7 linked regions of the Homo sapiens genome follow. The protein of the gene in region 5 interacts with the protein of the main gene of each other region in a biochemical or structural test. Each region holds a gene or a part of one and is shown on either strand. Other genes may lie near its edges.

Region 1 (4,076 bases), on a different chromosome or scaffold from region 5:
GTGGAAGTTGCAGTGAGCCGAGATCGCACCACTTCACTCCAGCCTGGGCAACAGAGCAAAACTCCATCTCAAAACAAAACAAAACAAAACAAAACAAAAAAACCCATGAAGGCTCCTAGGTATTCACTCTAAAGAAATGGAAATTTACATTCACACAAAAACCTACACAGGAACATTTATAGCCGTACTAGCCACAGTTGCCAAAAATTAGGAATAACTTACATGTTTCCCAACAGATGAATAAGATACACTGTGGGACATGCCTACAGTGGAATTCTACTCCGCGGTAAGTGGAACAGCATACGGAGACACGCAGTTCCGCAAACGCATCGCAAAGGCCTCAGGCTGGATGAAAGAAACCAGGTTCCAAGGGCTACGAATTGTGTGATTCCACACACAACTATAGGGACGGAAAACGCACCAGAGGTTGCTGGGTGCTGGGGGCCGGAGAAGGAGTGACGACAGAGGGCAGGACGGAATTTGGGGGAATAGTCTGTATCTTGATTGATGTGGTGGTAGTCTCTGGGCTGTATGCATTTGTCAAATCTCAGAATTTTTCACTAAAATGATATAAAAATTTTATTGCATGTAAATTATACCCCAAATTTTTAATTAAGGGGGAAAGGAACTGGAAGATACAGACACAATGGACACTAAAAATGCTAATGAAAATAGGAAAAGTGATTAAGGGCTGTCTACACTCCTGTCCCTATGTCCTTGACTCCCAGCCTCTCAGCCAGACCTGGTCTGCGCCCCCCCCCCAGGCTGTTCTCCAGCACTGATAGCACCCCTGGCAGTCTGTAGGCACCAGACAAGCACTCTGTGACCTCCTCAATCCTGGGCCCCCTGAATGGCCGACACCTATGACTCCTCCCTCCTGCTTGAGCCCCACAGACCTCTCTGGTCCTTCACAAACTCCCTGGCTTGCCTCTGCCCTCTGACCATCCTGCTCACTCTCCTTCCCCCACCCCCGTCCCCTTACTTGGGTCATCCTGTCAGTAGCTGTACATGCTGCCACACCCACCTCTCCCAGAGCCCAGATCTCTCGCCCGACTGAGGTCGGTTGGTGCTGGCATCATCTCCTTTGATCTCCACCAACTGTTTCCATTAATACAACCAACCTAAGATCCAGATGGCATGCTCATGCTGCCTGTGGCTGGCTGAACCTCACAGTCTATTTCCACAGAGCTGAGCCCCAGAGTCTGCAAGTTGCTCCTTGGCAATTCTTCCCCAAGGCCTCCCTTGCTCAAGACCCTAATGGCTACTGCATTGGATCTCCCCAGCCCTCTGCCCCAGCTGAGCTGTGCTACTTGCCTTCCTTCAAATGGATGTTCATACTTTCATCCACACAGCACCCTCCACCTAGTGCACCCTTCCCTCTCCCCTCCATCTTCTCCAACCCAGCCAGCCCATCCTTGAAGACTCATGGAGCCACTCCCATAAAGCATGAGGATGCAGGATGAGGCAGAAAACTGAGGGCTTGTCCAAGGACCATGGGTGCAGAGTAGCAAAGCTGGTCTCTGGGGCAGGAAGCTGTGGCAGGAAACTGTCGCCAACACAGTTTGAGAAGCTCCTCCCCACGTGGCCGCAGGTGCAGCCTGGGTAGCTAGAAGTGGGTTAGGGCAGAAGAGGAGATGAGGGAGGCTCAGTGCCCAGCCCAGGGCTGCCATCCATGACCCGAGGCTAAGGAGTCCCAGAGGCAGGCTCTCTTCCTGTGCATCTCGGCTGCGTCCCAGCTTCCCTGTCCCACTGCCCACAAGGACAACGGTAATCACAAGCACCACCCCACACACACAGGTCGGGTGGTGGGCGCCTCCTCTTCCACCCCTGGGGCCTTTCTGGACTGTCCTCACTAGTAAAACATGGGGCCCAAGTTCCCAGGGACCCCATGGCCAGAGATGCTGGGGAGGCCAGAGAAGGTGGGCAGAGGTGGCAGAGATGAAAAGTCCGGGGGCAAGAGGTGGGAGCATTTGCCACGCAGCGGCTAGCCGGAGTGTCTGCTGTCAGTGAGCTGCACCGATCTAGAGCTCCCCGGGGTGACCCCAGACCCCAGGCAGGGGATCAAATGTTTCTGTTCTCAGCTGTGTCCCTGCAGACTCGTGGCCCTCCCAGAAGACACACCCACCATGAGACCCACCCCAGCCCTCGACCTGCCTGGGCCATCCCGACGGACAGGACTTGGGTTAGGAGCCGCGTCCCTCAGTCCCCAGTGAGCCTGTTCATTCCCCAAGCCTGGCCTATGGTTCTCCCTAGGCTGACCCCAGTCAGCTTCCTCTTGAGCTCACAGTTCAGAGATCCTAGTTTGGCCTTCCCAGAACTTACAGCCCCTGGATCACAGCACAGAGATCACAGCAGAGCAGCCACGGGGCACCTGCCCCACACTCACAGCCCAGGCCCTGGGAGGATGATGGGAGGAAGCCTTGGAGCCTGGTCAGAAGGACCTGCCTGGAATCCCACCATTCACCCAGCCTCCCTGGGTAAAGGCAGTGCTAGATTACAGCTGTTCCAGAGAGATCAGATTCCCCAAACATGCTTCAAAGGAAAAAAGAGTCAAGGGGTCAAATACAGTTTCAAATGCTGTGAAAAGCACATTAAAGGCTCCGAGAAGACCACATGGAAGGACCTCTTTCAGCGTCACTTAATTCCCACACCTATTCAGCAAAGCCTTGAAGGTCTACTGTTTCACAGAACATTCCCTGGGCATCAGAAGCCCCCATTACATGCCCATCGTCAGAGCAGAGGTATCACACCAAAGCCACTGGACCTGGTGGGAGCGGGCAGGAGCAGCACAAGCTCCACATGTCCCCCCAGCCAGAGGCTCCACGTGTCCCCCCAGCCAGAGGCTCAGAGGCTCCTCGTGTCCCCCCAGCCAGAGGCTCCACATGTCACCCCAGCCAGAGGCTCAGAGGCTCCGCATGTCCCCCCAGCCAGAGGCTCCGCATGTCTCCCCAGCCAGAGGCTCCGCATGTCCCCCCAGCCAGAGGCTTGACATGTCCCCATCCAAGGCTCTGCAGGAGCAGGGCCCCAGCCCCTCACCGCCCCACCTCCTCCTACTGCCCCCCCACCACCCTGTTCCCACTCCAGCTCCTGGCTCTCTCTCTCTGAACCCCTAGTCCTCACCTGAGACCCTAAGTCCCTCTGAAGCCATGTTCCCTGCTCCTTAATCCCCCAGCTGTGCTCGGGCCGCCTGTGCCCACCAACAGAGGCAGCATAGGCACTGGTCGTCAGCACACGCCAGCTTGGTGACGCCATGAGCCACACAGCCGCAGTTAGCCATGGCTGCAGGCTCCTCCTTCATATGTCTTTCCTGACTGCAGGGATTGGATTCAAATCATGGAATCGTGGACCCACCACATGGTCACAGTGCAGCCTCAGCAGCGAGTGAAGCTCGCCAGACCTCCTCCGGAAAGCAGGGCCAGTGAAGGTGTCCAGCACTGGGGCTGCAGGGACTCCCTGGGGTGAGACTTGCTGGCCCCCGTCATGCCATCACATCCTCTTCTCTGCTTGAAGCCCTCTAGGCTCCCACCTCACTCGGGGTGAAAATGCAAGTCCTCAGGGTGGCCCCCAAGGCCCTTCATGATGCCCATCACCACCCCCCGCCACTCACTCCCCTCCAGCCACACGGGCCTCCTCATGTTATTCGTTCAGGTCCCTCGGACAAACCAGGCATGGTGCAGCCTCAGGGCCTTTGTACTGTCTGTTCCCTCTGCCTGGAGACTCTTCCTCCAACACCTTCCACTTTATTCAGGTCTCTGCCTAAGTCACCTCCTCCAGGAGGCCTTCCCTGACCTCCCTCTCCAAAATAGCCTCTCCTTCTCTCTCTAGCCCTGACCCAGCTTTGTTGTTCTTCACCACCTAAAAGATGATATTGTATCTATTGGTGACATAGTACCTTTGTCCCTGCCAGAATGTAAGCACCACGGGAGTGGAGCCTTTGTCTTGTTCTCCTACCTATACCAGCATGGCACAGAGGAGGTGCTCAATATACCAGGTACCTACAAAGGTCTGCAGTCCACTGGGATGGGTGGGGATGCCTCTGAGCACCGGTGGAACCTGACACCTGGGAAGGGGTGAGG
Region 2 (4,076 bases), on a different chromosome or scaffold from region 5:
AAGACGGCTCTGCGTCGACAATCTGTTGCTGTAAGGTTTGTGACTTACTGGCAGCATCAGCAGTAGTATTCATAGTCAAAGGGCTGGATCTGCACAGAGCTTGTCTGTGTCTTGGGGTTACTTTGTGTTGCCTCAAATTTAAGGGGTTGCAGTGATGGGTTGAGGGGTGCATGGCATGACTAATTAGGGCTCTGTACCATCCATGTTTTGGTTCCTTGTTCATTAGCAGCCATGAATGGTGCTGTGATGTGAACATAAACGCAGGCATTGTCCTCTGCTGTCCTGGAGAAGTTTGAAATCACGCAGAAAGAAAACCAGATGCTAAAGTGTGTGTGCATGTTTGATTCAAATTATCACATGGCCCTCTGTTGGCGCACATGTGCAAATTCCCGCATTGCCCATGTTGAGTTTAAAACCTCGAACTTATTTTATTGAAAAATTGTTAAACTGAAAACAATCTTAATTTGGCGTTATTTAGAATTTTTGAATAGTTCTACCGGTATCCTTACTTTAAAAGATTTCTGGTAGATAGAAATGGGCCATCTTTATCATATGACTAGATACCAATAGTAAAATATAAAGGTTTAGGGTTTGGGAAAGGATGCATTATTCTCTTTGATATAATTTTTTTCTAAATTAAAAATAAAGCCCCCAAATGTTTTCTAGTTTCCTGGAAAATTTATATACTGTATTATAGATTTTCCCCCTCAAAGAAATACCTACTTACAGGTGATATTAGGATATTGCACATATGAATTATAATTCAAAAATATTTCAACTTAATCTGAGAACAGGGACTGTAAAATACAGAAGTCTGGTGAATTTTGATCATCTAGGAAACATTAAACTATTTGAGCAACAGCTTAGAATGTGAATTAATGAAGGACTTAAAATTTAAACATGGAAGAAGTTCCTGAGCAACAGTAGAATTCAAAGCTCAAAGCATGTCTAATTGGTCCATCATTGAGTTTGCTGCTAAATAACAGAATGGGGCTATGCACACAGAAAGGCTGCAGCTTACTCTGCCTAGAGGTTTATATTCTTTTCAGCTGGGCCTCATTGGCAGCACCTTTTTACTCCCCTAAGTATCTTGACATTTCCTTTTTTCTTTTGGTGACGTAAAAGAAAGAACAAGGAACTATGCTCTTGATAGAAAAGAAAAATCCAACAGCAAAGAACAATGACTATTTTCATTAAATTTCCATTTTAAAAGTATTTGATATTTGGACCTAAAAGAAATACCAATGAGTATTGATTACGGTGCTGCCCACCTTTAAATTATCTTATCCTAAAGTCAAGCCTGGGTAGGACCCCAATCACTCAAGGAGGCTGCTGGTCTTTAGCAGGTTCAAAAGGCAATATCCTGGTCCTCCACCTTCTCTGTCCTCAGATCCACGGTGGGGAAACTGTAGGAAGGAATATGAACAGTGCAGGGGACAGGAGGCAGGGGTTCAGTTTTTAAAGAGCCAGTGGGCCATCTGAAGACAAGCACAGCCTTGACATTCAGCTCTGAAACTGCCTGCTGGAGGGGCGAGGCTGGAGCAGGAAGCAATGCTGTGTGGGCTGCACCGGGTTTGCCTTTGGCCCCAGCGTGGTCCCCAAAAGACGGGCTCCTTCTTAGAGCACATCACAGCACAGACTTCAAAAGGATAAGAAGTGACCATATTTAGAAATGACCCAAGTGCCAAGGGCAAGAATCAGGAGGCCCAATGTAAAAGCAATGGTTTTAGGTGCCCACTGCTCAGAGCTATTCCAACAGCGTCAGCATTCAGTGAGCCAGCAGATTACGCCATTCATAAACACCTGTGAAGGCTCCAGCGAAGTTACATAGGTTTCAGCTTGTGGAGTGTTGTATATTTACTGACAGTGAAAATGGCGAGCTATTTATAGGAGATTTAACGATCAGAAAAGTACTGCATTATTTCCTGATACACTGGACCCTTCCTGATATGCTTCCCTTTTGGAACAAAGCTCTGTTTTTACAAGGACTCTTTAAAAATTATTTTATTACTCCCATTTGTGCATCTAATGATATTTGGGGTGGTATAAATCATTTGCTTTATTTGTAAATGCTCTACTGCCTTTTATAGGTGGTCTTCGTAAATTACATTTACTCAAAAATTTATTCTTAATTTTTTTCACTTGACAAAGTGTATAAAAATATCTTAAATTTTCATTTTCTCAGAGCTGTATTCTTTTGGTAACTGTGAGCAAAGATCATACAAAAGTTATTTTAACTATATTAAAATAACTATATCAATTCTACTATAATATTGTAGAATTTTATTTTACCTCTAGACTGAAAAATTGATTTTGATGTGGAGTTGAACTTTAAAAAGTTGATTTTTTTCTCAAAATTCTTTCGAAATCTTATGATATGGATGGCTTACACGTAAATATCTAAATGGTTTGAAAAATAGTTTAAGAATTTCTTTTGACATTAATATATAAAGTTATTAATTTGATCTGGATAGTGAGTTGTCTCTTTTTATGTGACACAAACATAGATGTGTTAAAGGCACACACACACCACACACATATACACAAACCACACACACACCTCACATATACACACACATATGCACATACACACCATGCACCCACACACAACCATACAGACACTGCACACACACAACACACACACCCCACAGCCCACAGGTAGATGACTTGTGATGACTTTGGATGGGGGCTGTTTTCTTTCTTGTTAGAAAATAGGAAATGTCATATTTCTAGAAATACCCAATTATCTCAGTCATTTCTTTTATATTCATGTTTAAGAAAAAGATAAGCTACGACAAAACTTCCATCCTATAAAGAACAGATGGCTGCTTCTCTGCCTCCGCACGGTGTCTTACCTTTGAGTATATGTCATAGTTTTGAGGAATATATGATTACTATCATTAAAGCAGAGTCCTGGGAACAGAAAGCCTGGGCAGCAAACACGTGAACCCACTTGCAAGACTGGCTTTCCAGCCAACAGGCTGGCCCTGCAGGATGTGCCGGTGCTGCTGGCCTGCAGTGCCTGGCTTAGGGTAGGGGACATTAGAGCAGACACCTGGCCTGGTGAAGGTCCTGGACTGGTGAAAGGCAGGACACCTGGGCTGCAGCTCCACCGCCAGCTTAGTGTGGGGCTAGAGCAGTCAGCTCACCTCTCTGGACCTGGCTGTCCCTGGCTGCAGCAAGTTGAAGGCAGGGTTGTGCTGGGGTTGGTCTCTATGGGTTGGAGGCCTGGCCGAGGCAGAAATGGTGGCATCTGTATTGTTTTTTGCACCAGCATCTAATGTAATTGGAAGAGACGGGCCCAGGGAAGCACACTGCAGTATCAGGAGTGTGCTCACCTGATGGACACCTGCTGGATCACTGGGGCCAGGGCCAGACCCTGCAGTACAAGGATCCAAGTCCATGGTGGGGCTCAGAGGAAAGCAACAAGGAAGAGCCAGCATGTTCAATGAAAATACCCAAGGGCAGTAGAGTTAGTGAATTATTTAATTCATAAATAAAATGGTTTCAGATGCAATGGAAAGAAATGACCAGTTATGTGTGTTTCCTGGGTAAAGGACAAGAAAACAATTTTGCAATTTATCATAAGAGTTCTATAGTATGTGGTGGAAAAATAATATCTTTAAGGTGGGAGGCAGTGAGCATAGGAACAGCCTACTGAGTGGGTGGATGTTGACCATCGTGTGTGTGTGTGTCTGTGTGTGTGTGTGTCTGTGTGTGTGTGTCTGTGTGTGTCTGTGTCTTCGTGTGTGTGTGTGTCTGTGTCTGTGTGTGTGTGATGGGGTGTGGGGATGTGCAGCTGCACAATATGCCTTACAAGTTGGTTTTGGTCTTACAAGTTCATAATTACTCATTTTCTGTTGAGTTAAAAAACAAAACAAAACATTTTGACCCCACTGTGATTTTGCCTCTCCCCTCCCAACCAAAACAACAACAGTGTGACAAGGATCCACTGAGGGTCCACTGGGAGTAATTAATCCATGTCTCCCAGTGCTAGAATTGGTGAATTTTCCCTGAGTGGCCACGTCAGAGTTGCAGAGCAGTCACGGTTATAAATAAGCAGAGTGGCACCAGTT
Region 3 (4,076 bases), on a different chromosome or scaffold from region 5:
ATGTGCCATGTACATAAGTTGCCTTGGTGCCAAAGAGGCAATTCTGCCTATAAGTCTAAACTCCAACAGTGATTCATGGTTCAAAAAGCCCCTGCTAGAAGGTGAGAGTTAGTTCTACTCATTGGTATCACTCTGCCTTGACTTGGAGCATGGGCCTAGATTTACAGAAACTGCATGTTAACACTTATGACCTTCACTGGTCTTCTGGGTTGACCACCTGCTATGACTCAAACTTACCTAGCCCTTGCCTTTTCAAGTCAATTATGCACACTGCTGCCAGAATTATGTACAAAGAACTAAGTTGCAGGTTTCATTTAAAACAAAGTTGCTTTTCTTTTAAAAAATATCTTACCTAAGGTATCCTTTAGGTTTTTCACAATAGATGCTTTCCGAGCACTGTTTTTCCTTTCCACATAGTTAGAAGGCACAAAACCTGTTTTATTCATGGAATTTCGAACTCGCCACCAGGACTTAGAATCATCCAGAAGCCATAATCTCTCATTCTTCTTGATGTCCAACTCTTGTTCTTGTTGGGCCACATAATCAAATTTGGCTACTACCACCACTTCTTCTGCCATCTTTCAGCAGCTTCAGCACTGTAAACACATGGAAAATATTTTTATGTAAGGTTGAGGTAGTATTAGTTCACATGCTTTTCAAAAGAGACACACCTAAAAATCTAAAGACATAAAGATGAAAAGTAAAAAATATGGAAAAAAATACATGAGGCAAATAGTAATTTAAAGAGACTGTGACTGTATGGCCGTGCGCAGTGGCTCATGCCTGTAATCCCAGCACTTTGGGAGGCCAAGGCAGGCAGATCACTTGAGGTTGAGTTCGAGACCAGCTTGGCCAACATGGTGAAACCCCATCTGTACTAAAATACAAAAATTAGCTGGGCGTGATGGTGCACACCCGTAGTCCCAGCTACTCAGGAGGCTGAGGCATGGGAATAGCTTGAACCTGGGAGGCGAAGGTTGCAGTGAGCCGATATCGCACCACTGCACTCCAGCCTGGCGACAGAGGGAGAATCTGTCTCAATCAATCAATCAACCAATCAATAAAGAGACTGGTGTTGCTCTATTAGTATCAAACAAAACTTAAAGGGCAAAAACCATTACTAGCAATAAAGTTCACTACCCAATGAAAAATGTTCTACTCAATTACAATATCTAAACTTCTATGTACCTAGTAACAAGATAGTTTCAAAATATGTTGACAGAACCACAAGGAGATCTTGACAAACCCATTACCACAGAGGACAATTTTTAACATATTATCAGAGTAACAAAACAAAGAAATAAAAACGGCCAGGCCTGGTGGCACACACCTGTAATCCCAGCACTTCGGGAGGCCGAGGCTGGTGGATCACCTGAGGTCAGGAATGCAAGACCAGCCTGGCCAACATGGTGAAACCCCATCTCTACTAAAAATACAAAAATTAGCTAGGTATGGTGGCGCACACTTGGAATCCCAGCTACTCAGGAGGCTGAGGCAGGAGAATCCCTTGAACCTGGGAGGCGGAGGTTGCAGTTAGCCAAGATCGTGCCACTGCACTCCAGGCCTGGGTGACACAGCCAGACTTGGTCTCAAAAAAATAAATAAATAAATACAAACATTATTAAGGCTAGAGAAGAACTCATATCACAACCAGCAAGTCTGATTTAATAGACATATACAGAATATTGCTTCCAAATAGAAAACAAATGAAACACATACAAAAAGCAATCAAATGCCAGGCCATAAAGAATGTCTCAATGTTCACGTAACTGATATCCTACAACCATATTCTCCAACAACCATAACAAAAAGATAACTTTTGAAATACCACGTTTGGAAACTTCTAAAAACTAATGAATCTAAGAAGAAATCATATTGAATTTTGAAAATACTTAGAAGTAAATAATTTTAAAAACTATACATCGAACTCTGTGGGATGTAGCAAGAGGAGTGTATATAGACAGATTTTTAGTTTTAAATAGTAACATTAAAAAACAAAAAGAGTGGCCGGGCGCGGTGGCTCATGCCTGTAATCCCAGCACTTCAGGAGGCTGAGGCGGGTGAATCACAAGTTCAGGAGATCGAGACCATCCTGGCTAACACGGTAAAACCCTGTCTCTACTAAAAATACAAAAAAATTAGACAGGCGTGGTGGCGGGTGCCTGTAGTCCCAGCTACTTGGGACGCTGAGGCAGGAGAATGGCTTGAACCCGGGAGGCGGGGCTTGCAGTGAGCCGAGATCGCGCCACTGCACTCCAGCCTGGGCCGCAGAGCGAGACTCTGTATCAAAAAATAATAATAATAATAATAATAAAATTTAAAATAAAATTTTAAAAAGAGCTAAAAATAAATTAATGAACTGAGTATCTATCTTAAGCAGTTAGAAAAGTTAAAGAAACATTAGAAAAACAAATCCAACTAGAAAATGAGCAAAAAAACATGAAGAGGCATTCACTGAAGATTTACAGATGGCAAATAAGCAGATGAAAAGGTATTCATCATTAGCTATTAAAGAAATGCAAATTAAAACCACACTGAGATGTCACTACATACGCTTGTCAGAATGGCTAAGAGTGGTAATACCAAATGCTGACAAGGGTAAGTTGAAATTGGATCACACGTATACTGCTGATGAGAATGTAAAATGGTACAGATACTCCGCAAAATTGTCTGACAGTTTCTCATAAAACTAAACATGCAACTACCATACAAGCTAGCAACTGCACCCCTGGGTATTTATCCCAGAGAAATGAAAATTTATGTTCACATTTTACATGAATGTTAACAGCAACTTTATTTCTAACAGTCAAAAACCGGAAACCACCCAGATGTCCTTCAACAGGCAAATAATTAAACAAACTGGTACGTTCATACCAAAAAGAACAATTGATGCACAAAACGACCTGGATGAATCTCCAGGGAATTATAACTGCTCAGTGAAAAAAGCCAATCTCAAAGGTTAACTATATGACTCCATTTATATAACACTCTCAAAATGACAAAATATGGAAATTAGAAACAGATTAGTAGTTGCCAGGGTTAACGGGGCAGCAGGAACAGGAGGGAAGTAAGTATGACTATAAAAGGGCAATATGAAGAAATTTTGTAATATTATTGTGATATTGTACTATACTTCTGCCAGATGTATTGCCACTGGAGGAAAGCATACACTGGATCTCGCAATAAGTTCTAAAGTTTCTCAGAATTGCATGTGGATCTATAATGATCTCAAAATAAAAAGTTTAATTAAAATAAAAACTGAAAGAGAAAACACAAATAGTCAAAAAGTATTCAAAAGATCCTGAATATCTTTATAATTAAAGAAATGAAAACTAAACTGAAATACCACACTTTACCTATCAGGGTGACAAAAGTATTACCAATATTATCTAGTCCTCCCCAGAATGTACAAAAATAGCATTCTACTACATTACTGGTATAATAACTAAAAATTTATATAATGCTTTTAAGTTTTATAATTATGGCACTTTTCAACATTTACAGAAGAGAATAGTATAATGAATCCTATACCTATCACCCAATTTTATCAATATTATGCCTTGTGGTTCAGCTATCCCCCTAATTTTTGGTGGGGGAACTGGAATCCCATGATTTCATTAAGCACTAACAGATTAAAAACCCATACCCCTCAAAAATGAACAAATCAAGGGCTCCTGACCTTTTCCCTTTTTTAACCCATATATGCCGGAGGTTGCAATTTCTTGTGTGAAAAATCAGACCTTGGTGACGACCTTGAGCATGATATAAATAACTCTCACAAGCTTAGCGTTCCAATAATGGAACACTAGGCACAAATGGGTTAAGCCATGGACCTCCCCTCCTCCTGCCTAATGGCAGTGTGGTGAAACATAGAACCTCTACTCACAATGTTTCTGATGCATAAAAATATATAAGATTGCAAACAAGTCAATTATACTAAAATTAAATTATCAGTATATTTTCAAAAGCTCATTTTGAAAAGGTGTTCCTTTATTAAGAACTCCTGCAACACTTATTTCATCTAATGCTAATATTCAATTTTTGCTAAGTGTATTTTTTTAAACATTCTTACAGTT
Region 4 (3,134 bases), on a different chromosome or scaffold from region 5:
GCCCTGCCAACCCATTTCAGTCCCTCTGACTTCTGGAACAGTAAGGTTATACATGTATTGACTGATTGATTGATTGATTGATTGAGACAGGGTCTTGCTTTTCTGGAACAGTAAGGTTATACATGTATGTATGTATGTATGTATGTATTGAGACAGGGTCTCGCTGTCTTGCCCAGGCTGGAGTGCAGTGGTACAATCTCGGCTCACTGCAACCTCCACCTCCCGGGTTCAAGCAATTCTCCTGCCTCATCCTCTCCAGTAGCTAGGATTACAGGCGCCCACCACCATGCCTGGCTAATTTTTGTATTTTTAGTAGAGACGGGGTTTCACCATGTTGGCCAGGCTGGTCTCGAACTCCTGATCTCAAGTGATCACCCACCTCAGTCTCCCAAAATGCTGGAACTATAGGCATGAGCCATTATGCCCGGCCAAGTAATGTTATGCAGTTTTGTTGTCTTAAGCTACCAGATATGTGGTAATTTGTTACAGGAGCAAGAGGAAACTAATATAGCCAGTAACTATTTTAGGGCAGTTAGAAAACCTCAAGCATTGAACCCCAATTTTCTTTCCTTTCCTTTCTTTCTTCTTCTTCATCTTTTTTTTTTTTTTTTAAACAGGGTCTCACTGTGTCGCTCAGGCTAGAGTGCAGTGGCACGATCATAGCTCACTGTGGCCTCGACCTCCTGGGCTCAAGCAATCCCCCGCTCCTCGGTCTCCCAAAGCACTGGTATTATAGGTGGGAGCCACAGCACCCAGTCTGAACCCCACTTGTCTTTGTATTTCTGGTCCCCGGGAGAGTCCTTCACCATTTCTGACTTGTCATACAGCAAGAAGGCAAATAGATATTCAGGAATTGGAAGGACAGGAAAACCAACGTTTTGGTAAAGACTTTGGCATTTATATCTTTTATTTAAATATTCATTTCACTATTTTGAAAGTTTCCCTTCCAAATCACAGCTGTAACTAAAATCCAACCATTCCAGGAAATAGAAATATCAACTTGGGGGCTTCCTGAGAATGTCAGATTGTGGATTGCAAGAGTCAAAAAGAGATTTTCCAGTCCAACCTACCCACTGGACAGATGAGGAAACTGTGGCTGAAGCGAGGGTGGGTGTCTGGGAGTAGGAAGGGGGTGTGGGCCCTGGCGGATGGTGCTGGAGCCACCTTGCAGCCACCACCTGGGCACCCCCTGGCCCTGCCCTGGTCCTCCCTATCATGGCTGCTGTTGGTACTGGCTCTCTGTGGCCGTGTAGAAGTCATCCAGCACACTCTGGATGTATTCGAAGGTCGGCCGCTCCTCCGGACGGTTTTTCCAGCAGCGCATCATGATGTTGTAGAGCTCCTCTGGGCAGTTCTCTGGGCGAGGCATCCGGTATCCACGCTCCAGAGCTCGGATCACTTCAGGGTTTGACATCCCTGAAAAGGAGCCGTGGAATTAGAAACGGAAGCAGTTGGGAAATGAGAGCCCAGGGGTGGCAGGCCCTGTGGCCTCCCCAGCAGGCATCACTCCCCACCTCACCTTGCAAGCTGAGCCCCTTCCACTGTGAAAGACAGACTTCCACCCTCAGCTTCACTTGCAGCTAGGACATGGGCCTGGGACCCAGTTTGGGCCAATGGGAGCTGATGGGGAGGTCTGCTGGGAAAGTGATGGAAAGGTTTTTCCTCCCGCTTAGAGGAGAGTCTTTGGAGAACGCACCCTTCATCTCTTCCTTTGAACACTGTGAGATACTTATGATACTTGGAGCTGACAACATGGAGAAGACCATCATAGAGACAGGAACCCAGAGTCCTGACAGCTGCTGAGTTGCTGAACTAACCAGTCACCAATGGAAGATTGGGAGTAATAGATTGCTTCTATTTCAGTTACTCTTTGTCTGTTATTTTGTTGCTTGCTGTGGAACACATCCTAATGGATTCAGCGTCTATTGTGTGTTGCCTGGTTTTGACTAGTGCACCCTCAAGACAAAACATTCAGGTGGCCAGATTCAATGTTAACCTATGGGTGGGACCATTTTTTTGTTCAGTTCAAGTTTCTATTAGCTATTCATAAGAATAGCCATTCAATGTCTGTGATCCCCAATTTTATATTATTAGTCTCAAACTCCAAACTCATGAACTCAAGTGCTTCCTTTACTTGGATGTCTCTATATTTAAGTCAACTCAAATTTAGCAGAGCTAAAACAGAGCTCTCCAATTTCTATCCCTAGACCATTACCCACCCTGTGGTGCAAAGCCAGGGTAATCATCCTTTATTCTCTCTCTCTCACCTCCTAAGTCAGCAAGTCAGATCTTTTCTCCTTTTGAAACGTAGCACCAGTTCATCAACGTATGCCAGTCACGAATGCCACCACCCTGTCCAGACCATCATCACCTCTGCCTGGGCCACTGCTGTGGCCTCCTCACTGGCTGCCACCCTGTTCCCTTTCCCTCCCATTCACTCTCCATGCTGAAAGCATCGCTTAAAAATGGAAATCACCAGCCCGGCAACATAGCAATACCTTGTCTCTCAAAAAATTTAAAGAATTAGCTGGGCATGGTGGTGTGTGTCTGTAATCCCAGCATTTTGGGAGGCCAAGGCTGGAGGATCGTTTGAGCCTGGAAGTTAGAGACCAGGCTGCACAACGTAGTGAGACCAAGTCTCTACAAAAAAATTAAAAAAATAAAAAATAGCCAGACATGGTGGCATGTGCCTATGGTCCCAGATACTCGGGAGGCTGAAGCGGGAGGATCATTTGAGCCTAGGAAGTCGAGGCTGCCATGAGCTATGATTACACCACTGCACTACAGCCTCAGTGACAGAGTGAGACCTTGTCTTAAAAAAAAAAAAAAAGGTGGAGAAAGGACAAGATCTGATTTAAAGTTTAGAATTATCCTTCTGGCTGCAAGTGGAGAATAGGCTGTAGGACGAGGAGGGAGAAAGCAGTAAGACTGATGAGGATGCCGCTGCACCATCTATGGGAGATGACGCTGGCCTGGATGCAGTGGAGACTGTGGGGTTCAAAGTGGTGAGACTTGGGATATGTTTTGGAGTCGAGTGGCCAAAACCCTGTGACTGCTCAGATGTCATAGGGGTGAGGCCAGGCACAGTGGCTCACGCCTGTAATCCCAGCACTTTGGGAGGCCGAGGCAGGCGC
Region 5 (4,076 bases):
CCGTGATCAAGATTGCTCCCCAGTCCCACCAAACCAGAGTGACTCCCTTCTTTCCATCATCCTTACATTCCTGATCTGAACCCGCCTCCCCAGTGAACAAACACCTCAGGTCCCTGACTCAGCAGCCCACCAGGGCAGACCATTCCAGTCTCCTGGAATCTAAACCACAGAGGAGGTGTTTCAAGAAAAGGAGCAGGCCGAGCATGGTGGCTCATGCCTATAATCCTGGCACTTTGGGAAGCCAAGGTGGGAGGATCGCTTGAGCCCAGGAGTCCAAGACCAGCCTGAGTAACATAGCAAAAAATCTACAAAAAATTAAAAAAATCAGACAGGCGTAGTGGCTCGCACCTGTAATCCCGGCTACTCAGGAGGCTGAGGCAGAGGATTGCTTGAGCCCAGGAGGCTGCAGCTGCAGTGAGCTGTGATTGTGCCATTGTACTCTAGCCTGGGCAACAGAGTGAGACCCTGTCTCAAAAAAAAAAAAAAAAAATCCCTGAGTACTAAGCAGGGAAGCCAGATCTTTAGACTCCACATCTGTTACTCGTTCCACTAGAATATACTCCCATTTCCTTGGAGCCCACCTTCCCCTGACCATTCACATGCATATATTCCTGCATATATTCAGTTTGCCCAGGAGGAACTAAGTTCCTGGGTTGGGACTAGGACTAAGGTTGGCATTTGCCCCAGTCCCTCCCCTTCAGCTGCCCAGTGGGTGGTGTGGAGGCGTGGCCGCGCCCCTTGTTGACAGGTCCACTTGAGCCCAGCCCTGCTCTCCAAGGGCAGGGAGGGACACAGCCCTGGCTTTTTGCTTCCCGGGATTGAGGTGCCTGTGTACTGACATCATACCCCGTTGATTAAAACAAGCCTTTCTTAGCCCTGATGGCCCCTTGTGTTGCCTTCCTTCCCAACCAGGTCCCCCCTGTCATGAGGTTTGCAAGGGGCGATGCTGGGGTCCTGGATCAGAAGACTGCCAGACATGTGGGTTTGAAATTCCCTCCAAAAACTTCACTCATACGCTTTCATATCCCTTCCTCCCCAAGCCTGGGTCAACACTGTGGGGGAGGCATGAGCAGTGGCCTCAGAATTCAGTCCTAGGAGCCCTAACAGCCATGCTTTCTCTCCTTCCATAGTGACCAAGACCATCTGTGCTCCTCAGTGTAATGGTCACTGCTTTGGGCCCAACCCCAACCAGTGCTGCCATGATGAGTGTGCCGGGGGCTGCTCAGGCCCTCAGGACACAGACTGCTTTGTATGTACCCTTTCCATTGCCTGGGTTCTGAAATTGGGATGTGGCCTTTGAGGAGGAGGTAGGGGTACACACGTAACATAAATCTGATGAGCCTCCTTTTTTCCCAGGCCTGCCGGCACTTCAATGACAGTGGAGCCTGTGTACCTCGCTGTCCACAGCCTCTTGTCTACAACAAGCTAACTTTCCAGCTGGAACCCAATCCCCACACCAAGTATCAGTATGGAGGAGTTTGTGTAGCCAGCTGTCCCCGTAAGTGTCTGAGGGGAAGGAACAATGATCAACAATAGTAGATCCAAGATTTTAGACAAAATTGTGGAAGGGAAAAAGAATCCAGTTGGTGATAAATAGGGAGATTGGTGAATGGTTATGATCATCTAACCACTCCAGTGAGTGACCCTTACGTCCAGTCCTCCCATGACTTCAGCTATCACCCTTACTTCTGCTCCTTGTAGCAACAAATAGTGAAGAGACTTTTGAATCTATAGGGCAGCACTTAAGGGATCTAGGGTGGCAGATGGGGACAAATCCAGTGCAGAGCTGGAGGGAGCCTAGGCCCAGAGCAAGGGTTCCATTGGTAGCTGGTGATGTTCCTCCCTCATCTCTAATGGTGTCCTCCTCCTCTTCCCTAGATAACTTTGTGGTGGATCAAACATCCTGTGTCAGGGCCTGTCCTCCTGACAAGATGGAAGTAGATAAAAATGGGCTCAAGATGTGTGAGCCTTGTGGGGGACTATGTCCCAAAGGTGGGTAGGAGATGGTAAGAAGTTGTAAAGAGACAGCCTTTCCTCTGAGCCTGCGCAGACCACCCCCACTGAACCTCTCTTACATTTGCAGCCTGTGAGGGAACAGGCTCTGGGAGCCGCTTCCAGACTGTGGACTCGAGCAACATTGATGGATTTGTGAACTGCACCAAGATCCTGGGCAACCTGGACTTTCTGATCACCGGCCTCAATGGGTTAGAGATCCTGCCTTCCCTCCTTAGACCCCAGCCCACGCACCCCTCACAGTTCATTTCATTGGCCAAAACTTTCCTATGTGGAGCTGACTAGGAATCAAAGTCATAAAATTCTAGCCTGTTACAAAGGACCTGAAAGAATGCTTAACACATCCTCCATCCAGGCCTTCGGTCCCCTCAGGAACATCTTTGAGCAATTCAATATCGCCCTGCCAAGGAACAAGGGACAGGAACAACATATCCTCCTTCTTAAAGTTTTCTTTTTTATTCTTTTTTCTTTTTTGAGATAGGGTCTTGCTCTGTCACCTAGGCTGGAGTGCAGTGGCGTGATCTCGACTCACTGTAGCCTCGACCTCCTGGGCTCAAGTGATCCCAAGTAGCTGGGACTATAGGCACACACCATCATACTTGACTAATTTTTTTGTATTTTTTTGTAGAGACAGGGTCTTGCTATGTTGCCCAGGCTGATCTCGAACTCCTGTGCTCAAGCAATCCTCCCATCTTGGCCTCCCAAAGTGCTAGGGATCACAGCACCCAACCTCCTTCTTAAAGTTTTGTAAAAGTTCTTCCTTAGATTTGGATAAAAATCTGTCTCCAGGCTGGGCCCGGTGGCTCATGCCTATAATCCCAGCACTTTGGGAGGCCGAGGTGGGCGGATTACGAGGTCAGATCGAGACCATCCTGGCTAACATGGTGAAATGCCATCTCTACTAAAAACACAAAAATTAGCTGGGTGTGGTGGTGCACATGCCTGTAATCCCAGCTACTCAGGAGGCTGAGGCACGAGAATCACTTGAACCCAGGAGGCGGAAATTGCAGTGAACCGAGATTACACCACCGCACTCCAGCCTGGCGACAGAGCGAGACTCTTTCTCAAAAAAAAAAAAGAAAAGAAAAGAAAATTCTGTCTCCCCATGACTTTTAGCTGTTTTCACTCATTCTGCTCCTTGGAGCAAAAAGAACAAAGGGACTTTCTAGTCTATAGGACAGCATTTAAAATGTGTGTGTGTGTGTAAAAAAAACCCACTATGACCACCTGTTTTTTTTTTTCCTTTAATTTTTTATTTTGACATAATTTTAGATCTACACTAAAGTTGCAAGAATGGTATAAAATTCCCCATATACTTTTTTTTTTTTTTTAAGACAAAGTCTCACTCTGTTCCCCAGGCTAGAGTGCAGTGGTGCAATCTTGGCTCACTGCAACCTCCGCCTCCTCTGCCTCCCGGGTTCAAGCAATTCTCCTGCCTCAGTCTCCTGAGTAGCTGGAATTATAGGTGTGTGCCATCATGCCCGGCTAATTTTTGTATTTTTAGTAGAGACAGGGTTTCACCATGTAGGCCAGGCTGGTCTCGAACTCCTGACCTCAAGTGATCCACCCGCCCCAGCTTCCCAAAGTGTTGGGATTACAAGTGTGAGCCACCGCGTCTGGCCCCCCATACACTCTTTTACCCAGATCCTCCAAATGTTAACATACCACATATGGCCGGGCACAGTGGCTCATGCCTATAATCCCAGCACTTTGGGAGGCTGAGGCAGGTGGATCACTAGGTGTGGATCACGAGGTCAAGAGATTGAGACCATCCTGGCCAACATGGTGAAACCTCATCTCTACTAAAAATACAAAAATTAGCTGGGCGTGGTGGTGTGCGCCTGTAGTCCCAGTTACTCAGGAGGCTGAGGCAGGAGAATAGCTTGAACCTGGCAGGCAGAGGTTGCAGTGAGCCGAGATCGCGGCACTGCACTCCAGCCTGGTGAAAGAGCGAGACTCTGTCCCCCGCCAAAAAAAATACCACATACGCTTTATCACTTCTCTCTCTCTCTGTCTCTCTCTACACACACACACACACACACAAAACACATGCTATTGTTTTT
Region 6 (4,076 bases), 3.0 Mb from region 5:
CCCTGTTCCCCCTTGACTTCCCCACCATCTTCCAGAACCTCCTCTGCCCTGGGCACTCCGCACTCTGGTGCCCCTCACCTGCAGATGCCAAAGGTCCTGCTGAGGCCAGGTGCCCAGGCAATGGGTACCTGTCCCCTCCCTCCTCCGTAGGGATCTCGTAGCTCAGCTTCCTAGATTGTGGATAGGGCGGGCTGCCCGGGGAAATGGAGCCAGCCCGTGGGGAGTGGGCACCAGGGCTGGGATACCCTCTGCCCTCTCCTGGAGAGCCACAGCTATGAGGCACACGGCCATATGCTGGGCAGTAACTGGGAACTGCTCCTCCATAGCTGTATGTCACCAGGGCAGGGTACCCTGGATGCCCATACCTGCCTTCGGGGCACATGGTGTAGGAGCAGCCCTCGTGCCCTTCCTCGCCTGCCTTGGGTGGCTTCAGGCAGCTGTAGTCAGGCATCGGGGCATGGTGATGCCCACAGGCAGGCAAGAGCAGAGGCAGCGGGTGCCCAGGCCGCACTGGGTGCAGGAGAGGCTTGCCAGCCTCACTTGCCCACCCTTCTCCAGCCTCCCTCTCCAGCCGCAGTCCATACAAGGCTGCTGTAGGCAGCGCCAGCTTCTCCTCGCAGGCTGGGCATGGGTATAGGGCAGGCAGCCCAGGGTCCTCCAGGATGACCACCTCCCGGTAGCCTGGGGCGCGGTAGCCAAAGTCCCCAGTGGCTGGTTTCCCCATCTCAGGTGGGTAGGGGTATAGCCCCTCTGACAGCGATCGGCAGAGGCGCCTCTTCTCCATCGAGGCCTCGGCGTAGCCCTGGGGGGATCCCTCATAGCCCCCGTAGGCCAGTCGCCTCCTCTCCAGGGTTCCCTCTGGCCGGTAGTAGCCCCCATTGGGAACCCCGCAGGGCTCCCGGTAGCCCTGGCGGCAGGAGCAGTGGCGGCTGAGGCCAGGCCTATGGCCTGGATACACTCCGAGGTGGGGGCCTCCGCCCACAGTGGGCTGCTCTTCGTCATCTAGGATGGCCGTCTCGCGCCCAGCTCCCCGGCCCCCACTGGCCACTCCGCAGCCTCCTAGGAGGCGATCCAGCTCCTGCCGTTCAGCAGCTGTAGGGGGCGGCCGGCCAGGGGACTCAGCAGCCGGCTCTGTGGTCAGCGTGGAGGAATGGCCTGAGTCGCTGCTGACAGAGAGCATGGGGGGTGGTGGAGGCTCTGGAGAGGGTGCCGGGGGGGTCTGCCGGGGAGGCCGCTGCACCTGGGCATAAGGACTGCCATCCAGGGGACCCCGGGTGTGGGTCAAGGAGCCTGAGTGGGGAAGAGGATCAGGGAGGGAGGGCAAGCGGGGAACAGGGAGGGAGAGAGAAAATTCATGAGAGGGGATGGCACTGGAGACAGCTGTCGGGCCGGGGGTGTCTCTCGGGAGTGGGCTCTGCCTGGGGAGGAGGGAGTGTGCTTCTCCCTGGCACCACCCCCCAGGGTCCCGCCACAACCCTGTACCTCCCACCCTGCAGGCTGCCTGCGCACCATCCACACTGTCCTCGTGGTGCTGGTTGAAGTTCTCATAGGAGTCCCAGCGCACGGCTGGCTCAGTGGTGTTGTAGTCGACAGAGACCGAGGGGTCGTTCCGTGGAGTGCTGCCTGTGGAAGGCCACTCGGGTATTGGGGAGCAGGGGAGAGGCGGCCCTCAGTCCCCAGCCCATGTCCCTGCTCTTACCTTTGATCTTCTCGGGGCTGGAGGAGAAGACAAACTCCACGGAGGCTTGGAAGGGGAACCTCTCATCTATGGGGAGTGGACAGTGAAGAACCAGGCCCCTGGCCCATACCACACTCTCCTGCCTGCCTGCCACCTGCCTGCCACCTGCCTGCCACCTGGACTCCAGCCCCAGGCCACTTGTCTCAGACTCACCAGTCCAGGCCTCGTCAAGCTGGTCCTTGGGGAAAGTGAGCTGTGGTCCGTGGATGGTGCAGGTGTGGAACTGGACTCGGAACACGAGGGTCCGGTCTGTGCCCCGGCCACCCTTGTGATAACATGTTACCTGGGAGAAAGGCAGGAGGCTGCGGATCAGGCCTCATGTCCTCTTCTGCGCTTCCACCCTGGGGACTGCCTGGTCACAGCTTCTGCCCTGCCTCGATCTCAAGGTGATCTCCCTACTCGCTCTCCAATCTGTCTCAAATTGGTGACTGTGCCGTTACACCACCAACCCCTGCCCCATCTCCAGGATTCTTCTTGTTGACAGGACCCCCCTCACCATGACATCGCCTTTGAGGAGGAGGGCTGGCTCCAGGCTGATGCAAAGCTGCTGGGGACCAGGGCCTGCAATGTGACTGTGGGGAGAGAGGAGAAGGCAGAGATGAACCAGAAGCTCCTGCGTGCAGAGGCAGCTATGCAGTCAGGGGGAGCCAGGAGACCAGAGTCTGAGCCCTGCCCAGGTGTCTAGGGAGGCTGGAGAAGCAGGAATGCAGGAGCAAGAGGGGCCCTGGTCATGAAGTGTCAGGGGCCTGGGAATAGAGCACTCACTAGACTCCAGATGTGTAGACAAGCTGCATGGACTGGTAGATTTTAAGGAAGGGCTGGAAGCCTGGAGGGGCAGAGGAGAAGGCACAGGAGGGGTGCTGAGTGGAGAGGGCCTGAAGGTGGTTCTCCCTAGGGAGCACATCTCAGGCAGACTCACCTGTGCCAGGTTCAAAGGCTGGCAGCATGGGGATGAGCACATAGTGCAGGAAGAGAGGGCTGCTGTTCATTCTGATGGAGCCAGATAGCAGCCCACTGAAGTAGCTGATATATCTGGTGGAGGGCGTGTCAAGGAGAACATAAGCCTTTTCCTCTGGAGGTCACCTTGTATCATTTCAACCATCCACCCTTAGAAGGCTCGCTCTTCTGCTCAACACTTCCTTCCCATCTTCCGGGTCACCAGAAAGTTCTTCCTTGCATCTAACCTCAATCCCTCCTGCTCCCCTCTGCCTCAAAGCTCTTTCCCCAGAGCTCTGCTTCACTTTATAGTGGCAGGCCCTGACTGTCCTTCAGGTTCTCTTTATGACTGATCTCCTCGTCTATTTATTCCCAGGTCTACTGCCTTCCACCCTACTAGCATGAAAGCTCCATGAGAGCAGGGGCTTTGTCCACTTTGAATTCTCAGCACCTGGCACGGCGCTTGGCACACTCAGTGAAAGTGTGCTGCATGAATAAGAGAGTCTTGGCCTTGGTAGCCATGAAGGGAGCTGCTCCTCTGGCCCATCCCCACCCAGGCTGCTCACCGACGCTGGGAGGGCTGCAGTTCTGTGGCCACCTTGTCCTCGCAGAATTTCCGCATGGTAAGAGTGGCCAGTGCCTGGTCCGCCCTGGGGATAGCAAGGCCAGTGTTGGGGATTAGGGATTAATCTTCATCCTGGCCTCCCATCCCTAAGCCCCAGGGGATGGAGGAGAAATATGATTCTCTAAGTCTAGAAGAAGCCCAGAGTAGTGGTAATGAGAATGAGAAGCACCATGTACAGTCACTTTACTAGTTGTTGGGCCTCAGGCAATTGTTCCCTGAACTTTAGTTTTTTCATCTGTAAAACAGGGCAACAAAACCATCTTATGGGTTGAATTATATCCCCCCAAAAGACATGTACCTCAGAATGTGACCTTATTTGGAAATAGGGCCGTTGCAGACATAATTAGTTAAGATGAGACCATACTGAAGGAGGGTGGACCCTGAATCCAATATGATTGGTGTCCTTATAAGAAGAGAGGAAGAGACACAGACAGAGACACACAGGGAGAACACCATGTGATGACAGAGGCAGCGATTACAGTGATGTGTCTGCAAACCAAGGAATGCCAAGGCTTGCCGCCCACCACTGGAAGCTAGAAAGAGACAAGGAAGGATTCCATCCCGAGTCTCAGATGGAGCAAGGGCCTGCTGACAGCTTGGTTTGGGGCTTCTGGCCTCCAGAACTGTGAGAGAGTACATTTCCACTGTTTTTTGTTTTGTTTTGTTTTTGTTTTTTTTGAGACGGAGTCTGACTCTGTCACCCAGGCTGGAGTACAGTGGCACCGTGTGGGCTCACTGCAACCTCCGTCTCCTGGGTTCAAGCAATTCTCCTGCCTC
Region 7 (4,076 bases), on a different chromosome or scaffold from region 5:
TTCTTACAACCTGACATGGAGCTCTAGTTCAGCAAGATTCATCTGCGTGTATTACTGTTTTTAAAGAAGTCTACTTTAATTAAATATAAAAGTCATTGTTCAAACTTGTCATAATTTAGCACTTCTACCGATTAATTCATCTACTTTCCCTAGTTTCCTAAAGAGTTGCCTGTATCATCTCTTGAAATTCATAAACTGGACTTATTTCTATGTACAAATTCGAAAAAGTAAGTGGGAGGAGAGGGTTAATTTGCTAGCAACAAGTAAGACAGAAATCCCCACACCATATACACCCATCCATCCAAACACAAAATTTGGGGGAAATTTCTTTTACTTTTAGTGCAAATTATACTAACAGCACTTCAGATCTTGCAAAGAAAGATCTAAGAACAAGTTGTTGAAAACTGCACTGGGGAAACTTCAATGATACTGATATCACCATTCCTTTCACAAATTTTCAAAATTGCCAAATGCCACTAAGCAAACAGCGCTTAGAGGGTTAAGACTTCTGCTGCTTTGATATTTGCATATTTACTTTTTTCCTATGTATCCAAATGGCAATTCCCTGATCCTCTGAAATTTTAACACTATGTTCCAATCAGTTACTTTAAACGTACTTCAGAACAGTATTCAGGTAGCTAAATTCCCTGGGATTGTACCAGCTGTGCATGAATATGGTCAAAATCAAACTCTTCATTGACAACTGCGGTCTCTGTCTTCTGAATGAAAATCAAAGCAATCATGCACTGTGGAGTTTTCTCTTTTTGTCTGTGAAATCATGTGATCTCCCACATGGACTCTACTGTGAGATCACCAAGCGTGTGAAACAATAAGAATTGCTGTATGGGTTGAGATGCAGCCCTAAATCTCAGTGATAAACCTTTGGATCTCTCCTTTGAGCATCCCAGTTAAGACTTATACAATGTATTGTCAGGGAAAACTTAACGGCAAAGTATCTGAAAAATAAGTTGGTATTTTCATTCCTGAGTCCAGAATTATATTTGTGAGGTAAGGTATTGAGGAGAAAAGAGGATCCTTTAATAGATACTTGAGATAGAGGACTCAGAGATCACTGGAACTAGGTAGATAAGATCTTGGGCCAGGTTAAGAAAATATGTATTACCTGGGAAGAATTTACCACAAAATTGGCTTAATGGCAAAATTAACATTCTCCCTCTGTTGAAAGAAAATTTAAGACTACTTTGGGCCGGGCGCGGTGGCTCACGCCTGTAATCCAAGCACTTTGGGGGGCCAAGGCGGGTGGATCACGAGGTCAGGAGTTCGAGGCCAGCCAGGCCAAGATGGTGAAAACCCGTCTCTACTAAAAATACAAAAATTAATCGGGCGCGGTGGCGGGTGCCTGTAATCCCAGCTACTCAGGAGGCTGAGGCAGGAGAATTGCTTGAACCAGGGAGACGGAGGTTGCAGTGAGCTGAGAATGTGCCACTGCACTCTAGCCTGGGCGACAGAGCAAGACTCCATCTCAAAAAAAAAAAAAAAAAAAAGACTGCTTTGAAAAACATTGTGTTTTTAGAGAAACACACACTTCAAGAATAAATTATTCCTGAATATTTTACCACAGAGCCTTAAAGCGGGGTAGCTGAGAACAGGGATTAAGAAGGAAACTTTTCATCATATATTTTTATGTATTTTCTGAATTTTGAGCCATATAAATGTGCTACAGCTCCAAAAATATAAATATAATTTTATAAAGAAAAAACTAATTGATATTAGGAAATAAAATTAAAATGCCCTAGATAAAACAGGATAGTAAAGGGGAAGCACACTTGCTTTGATTAGGGGCCGAGAGGAAGTTAGTCACCTAGATTGTTAATATACCACCATCCCTAGCTCTCAAACTGTTTGTTAATTCAAACCGACGGTTGTTTTATTTTTGTTTAAATTTGGGGGTGGGCAAGTAGTAATCTACCTTCCAAAAGAAAAAAAAATAAGAGGGTCTTTTCCAGCAAGATCTTTATTCTCCAGTGCTCAAATCCCATTAACACTAATCAGCACAATGATTAAGCACATTGTGGTTAAGTACTCTAGTTGATAATGATTCTTTCGGAAGAAAGGTTCCCATAGCGACAGGTAAAGGCTATCATCAAACTCAGCTTTTCAGCACAGGACTTGATGTCACAGGTCAGAGAGTTAAGATTGTTTTAGTTTTAATCTGGAGGCTTTCTTTAACTTCACTTGACTTTATCCATTCAAATGACACTGATGGAGAGTCCTTCTATAAACCAGGCAAAGTACGAAACGCGGCAGGGCAGGAGAACTAGGAGAAAGAAGACCTCAAAGATAAGCTATTGTTCCTACCCCAAGAATGCAGTCTGCCGAGGAAAGCAGCCACTACAAGAAATAATGACATTAGGGTGGTAATTCAATCGTTAAATCTACAACCATGCCTTGTCCTCATCACTAGGACTGGTCAGTTTCTAATCTAGTTTCACTTTCCCATCTTCAAGCTGCAGCACAGCTGGGTTTCCAGCTGGCTGGGGAAGAAAAGATTCTTTAAATAAACAGCATTTAAAAAATATGTAGTCGCTTTTGCTATACTGAATTTTGTGAACCACCTTTCTCTAATATGTGAATCTGGGTGCCACATTAATTTAAAACTATCCTAAAGAATGTAAAAATCCTTAGGAATACACCTTTCCTTGTAGCAACAAAGTACACTATACACTGGAAAACTGCTAATCAGGAAATCCCAAAGAAAGAAATGATCTTCATTTTTTATGCTATTTACTGCATCTATTCAATAAGGAAACTGCTTAAAAACATGAATATAAGAAAACAACAAGATAGGGTGTAATTATACCAAAATATATGCAACCATCTTTTAAAATGCAGGACTATTTGCAGAACATGATGTTTTTATAACATTGTACAGAATTGCTAATCCCTGCAAGGCCTTTCTAACTCTTTTTCCTCGCCTTTCCACAGAAGGCACAGAAAACACCTCCCTCCATACAATGCAATCTTCTAAGAAATGCAAAGATTTTACTCAACTCTATCACCAGATGTACTCTTTCTGGATAAATGATACACATTAGATATGTAAAAATATCACTCTGGCAGGTCTTGCTCTTCCAGAAAGACCCCTGTCTACCTTTCCCCACCTTAGATCACAGACTTCAAGTCAACATTTCATGGTGGAAACGAGCCATTTATGAGGACTGATAAGAAGAGGTCCAGTGTGACCTCCTGCATTGATGCTCCTGAGGCCAATTTTTAAACACAATATTATCCCTCCATATTTTGCCCCCCTCCAAAAAAAAACCCACGGGCTTTCTAGGTGACTTCCCAGAGAACCACACCTCTCAGAACCTACACACACTCAGACCTGAAACTAGCTAAACAAAGCAACAATGCAACCTCAGTTGCTCAATGTAACGGCCATGACGACAGTTTCCAAGTGCCAGTTTCCCTATTTTGCAATGGGCAAATCTGCTCCAAGGAGAAAATGTTCCCAATGACCCTGTGGCCCAGAGGGCTTTCTTTAGAATAGAAAACAGAAAATGAATTTGTTAGTTATTTCCTGCTAAGCACAAGGACAGTGTTGTGGTTAGTTAGGATGATTTTGTTTCCTTATTTAATATAGCATTACCAGTACATGTTTTCTTTAACCACATAGTAGAAAACAAGAAAATGCAGTTTATGCTCTTCTGTTATATTATCACCAATTCCACAAGTCTCACAAATATGTCCTTTAATTTCTAATCCCCTTATATAAGGCTCCCCAAAATGGTACCTATTTATATACTTCCCTTTGAATATCAATTCAAAGCAATTTTTTTTTGCATTCTAAAATGTTTACTGCCATACACATTCCTGATCCTTGATAATTTGTGATATGTGAGGGCCCTTCCTTTACCAGTGATTGCAGTTCTAAATGTATCTTTTTAAGAACTATACTACACATGCTATTTTGATAATATGAGATGATCATAACCTAGAAACAGACCATATTTCTGCCCCTCAAATCTTTCATGATTTCTGCATTCAACTGTTAAGCTACTGAATACCCACTAGAACAAACAATGTGTAATTGATAAGGTGTATTGTGTTGGGGG

The links.
Region 1: the proteins of ERBB3 (region 5) and ZAP70 form a complex in vitro, tested with the Homo sapiens proteins (2 studies listed by BioGRID and IntAct, with this or other methods).
Region 2: the proteins of ERBB3 (region 5) and SHC3 form a complex in vitro, tested with the Homo sapiens proteins (2 studies listed by BioGRID and IntAct, with this or other methods).
Region 3: the proteins of ERBB3 (region 5) and NCK1 form a complex in vitro, tested with the Homo sapiens proteins (2 studies listed by BioGRID and IntAct, with this or other methods).
Region 4: the proteins of ERBB3 (region 5) and HCK form a complex in vitro, tested with the Homo sapiens proteins (2 studies listed by BioGRID and IntAct, with this or other methods).
Region 6: the proteins of ERBB3 (region 5) and TNS2 form a complex in vitro, tested with the Homo sapiens proteins (2 studies listed by BioGRID and IntAct, with this or other methods).
Region 7: the proteins of ERBB3 (region 5) and NRG2 form a complex in vitro, tested with the Homo sapiens proteins (2 studies listed by BioGRID).

What each region holds. Positions count from the first base shown.
Region 1 is NC_000002.12:97,716,240-97,720,315, reverse strand, and holds part of ZAP70 (tyrosine-protein kinase ZAP-70), read right to left. Parts: intron 1-4,076. UniProt on the Homo sapiens protein: Tyrosine kinase that plays an essential role in regulation of the adaptive immune response. Regulates motility, adhesion and cytokine expression of mature T-cells, as well as thymocyte development.
Region 2 is NC_000009.12:89,172,212-89,176,287, reverse strand, and holds part of SHC3 (SHC-transforming protein 3), read left to right. Parts: intron 1-4,076. UniProt on the Homo sapiens protein: Signaling adapter that couples activated growth factor receptors to signaling pathway in neurons. Involved in the signal transduction pathways of neurotrophin-activated Trk receptors in cortical neurons.
Region 3 is NC_000003.12:136,924,504-136,928,579, reverse strand, and holds part of NCK1 (SH2/SH3 adapter protein NCK1), read right to left. Parts: intron 597-4,076; 5' UTR 579-596; coding exon 353-578; intron 1-352. UniProt on the Homo sapiens protein: Adapter protein which associates with tyrosine-phosphorylated growth factor receptors, such as KDR and PDGFRB, or their cellular substrates. Maintains low levels of EIF2S1 phosphorylation by promoting its dephosphorylation by PP1.
Region 4 is NC_000020.11:32,099,599-32,102,732, reverse strand, and holds the end of HCK (tyrosine-protein kinase HCK), read right to left. Parts: intron 1,417-3,134; coding exon 1,214-1,416; 3' UTR 877-1,213; downstream 1-876. UniProt on the Homo sapiens protein: Non-receptor tyrosine-protein kinase found in hematopoietic cells that transmits signals from cell surface receptors and plays an important role in the regulation of innate immune responses, including neutrophil, monocyte, macrophage and mast cell functions, phagocytosis, cell survival and proliferation, cell adhesion and migration.
Region 5 is NC_000012.12:56,086,665-56,090,740, forward strand, and holds part of ERBB3 (receptor tyrosine-protein kinase erbB-3 isoform 1 precursor), read left to right. Parts: intron 1-912; coding exon 913-978; intron 979-1,130; coding exon 1,131-1,249; intron 1,250-1,356; coding exon 1,357-1,498; intron 1,499-1,878; coding exon 1,879-1,992; intron 1,993-2,083; coding exon 2,084-2,204; intron 2,205-4,076. UniProt on the Homo sapiens protein: Tyrosine-protein kinase that plays an essential role as cell surface receptor for neuregulins.
Region 6 is NC_000012.12:53,056,261-53,060,336, reverse strand, and holds part of TNS2 (tensin-2), read right to left. Parts: intron 3,394-4,076; exon of another isoform or gene 3,325-3,393; coding exon 3,241-3,324; intron 2,771-3,240; coding exon 2,658-2,770; intron 2,565-2,657; coding exon 2,504-2,564; intron 2,311-2,503; coding exon 2,235-2,310; intron 2,022-2,234; coding exon 1,892-2,021; intron 1,766-1,891; coding exon 1,700-1,765; intron 1,624-1,699; coding exon 1,510-1,623; coding exon of another isoform or gene 1,483-1,509; intron 1,291-1,482; coding exon 79-1,290; intron 1-78. UniProt on the Homo sapiens protein: Tyrosine-protein phosphatase which regulates cell motility, proliferation and muscle-response to insulin. Phosphatase activity is mediated by binding to phosphatidylinositol-3,4,5-triphosphate (PtdIns(3,4,5)P3) via the SH2 domain.
Region 7 is NC_000005.10:140,036,423-140,040,498, forward strand, and holds part of NRG2 (pro-neuregulin-2, membrane-bound isoform), read right to left. Parts: intron 1-4,076. UniProt on the Homo sapiens protein: Direct ligand for ERBB3 and ERBB4 tyrosine kinase receptors. Concomitantly recruits ERBB1 and ERBB2 coreceptors, resulting in ligand-stimulated tyrosine phosphorylation and activation of the ERBB receptors.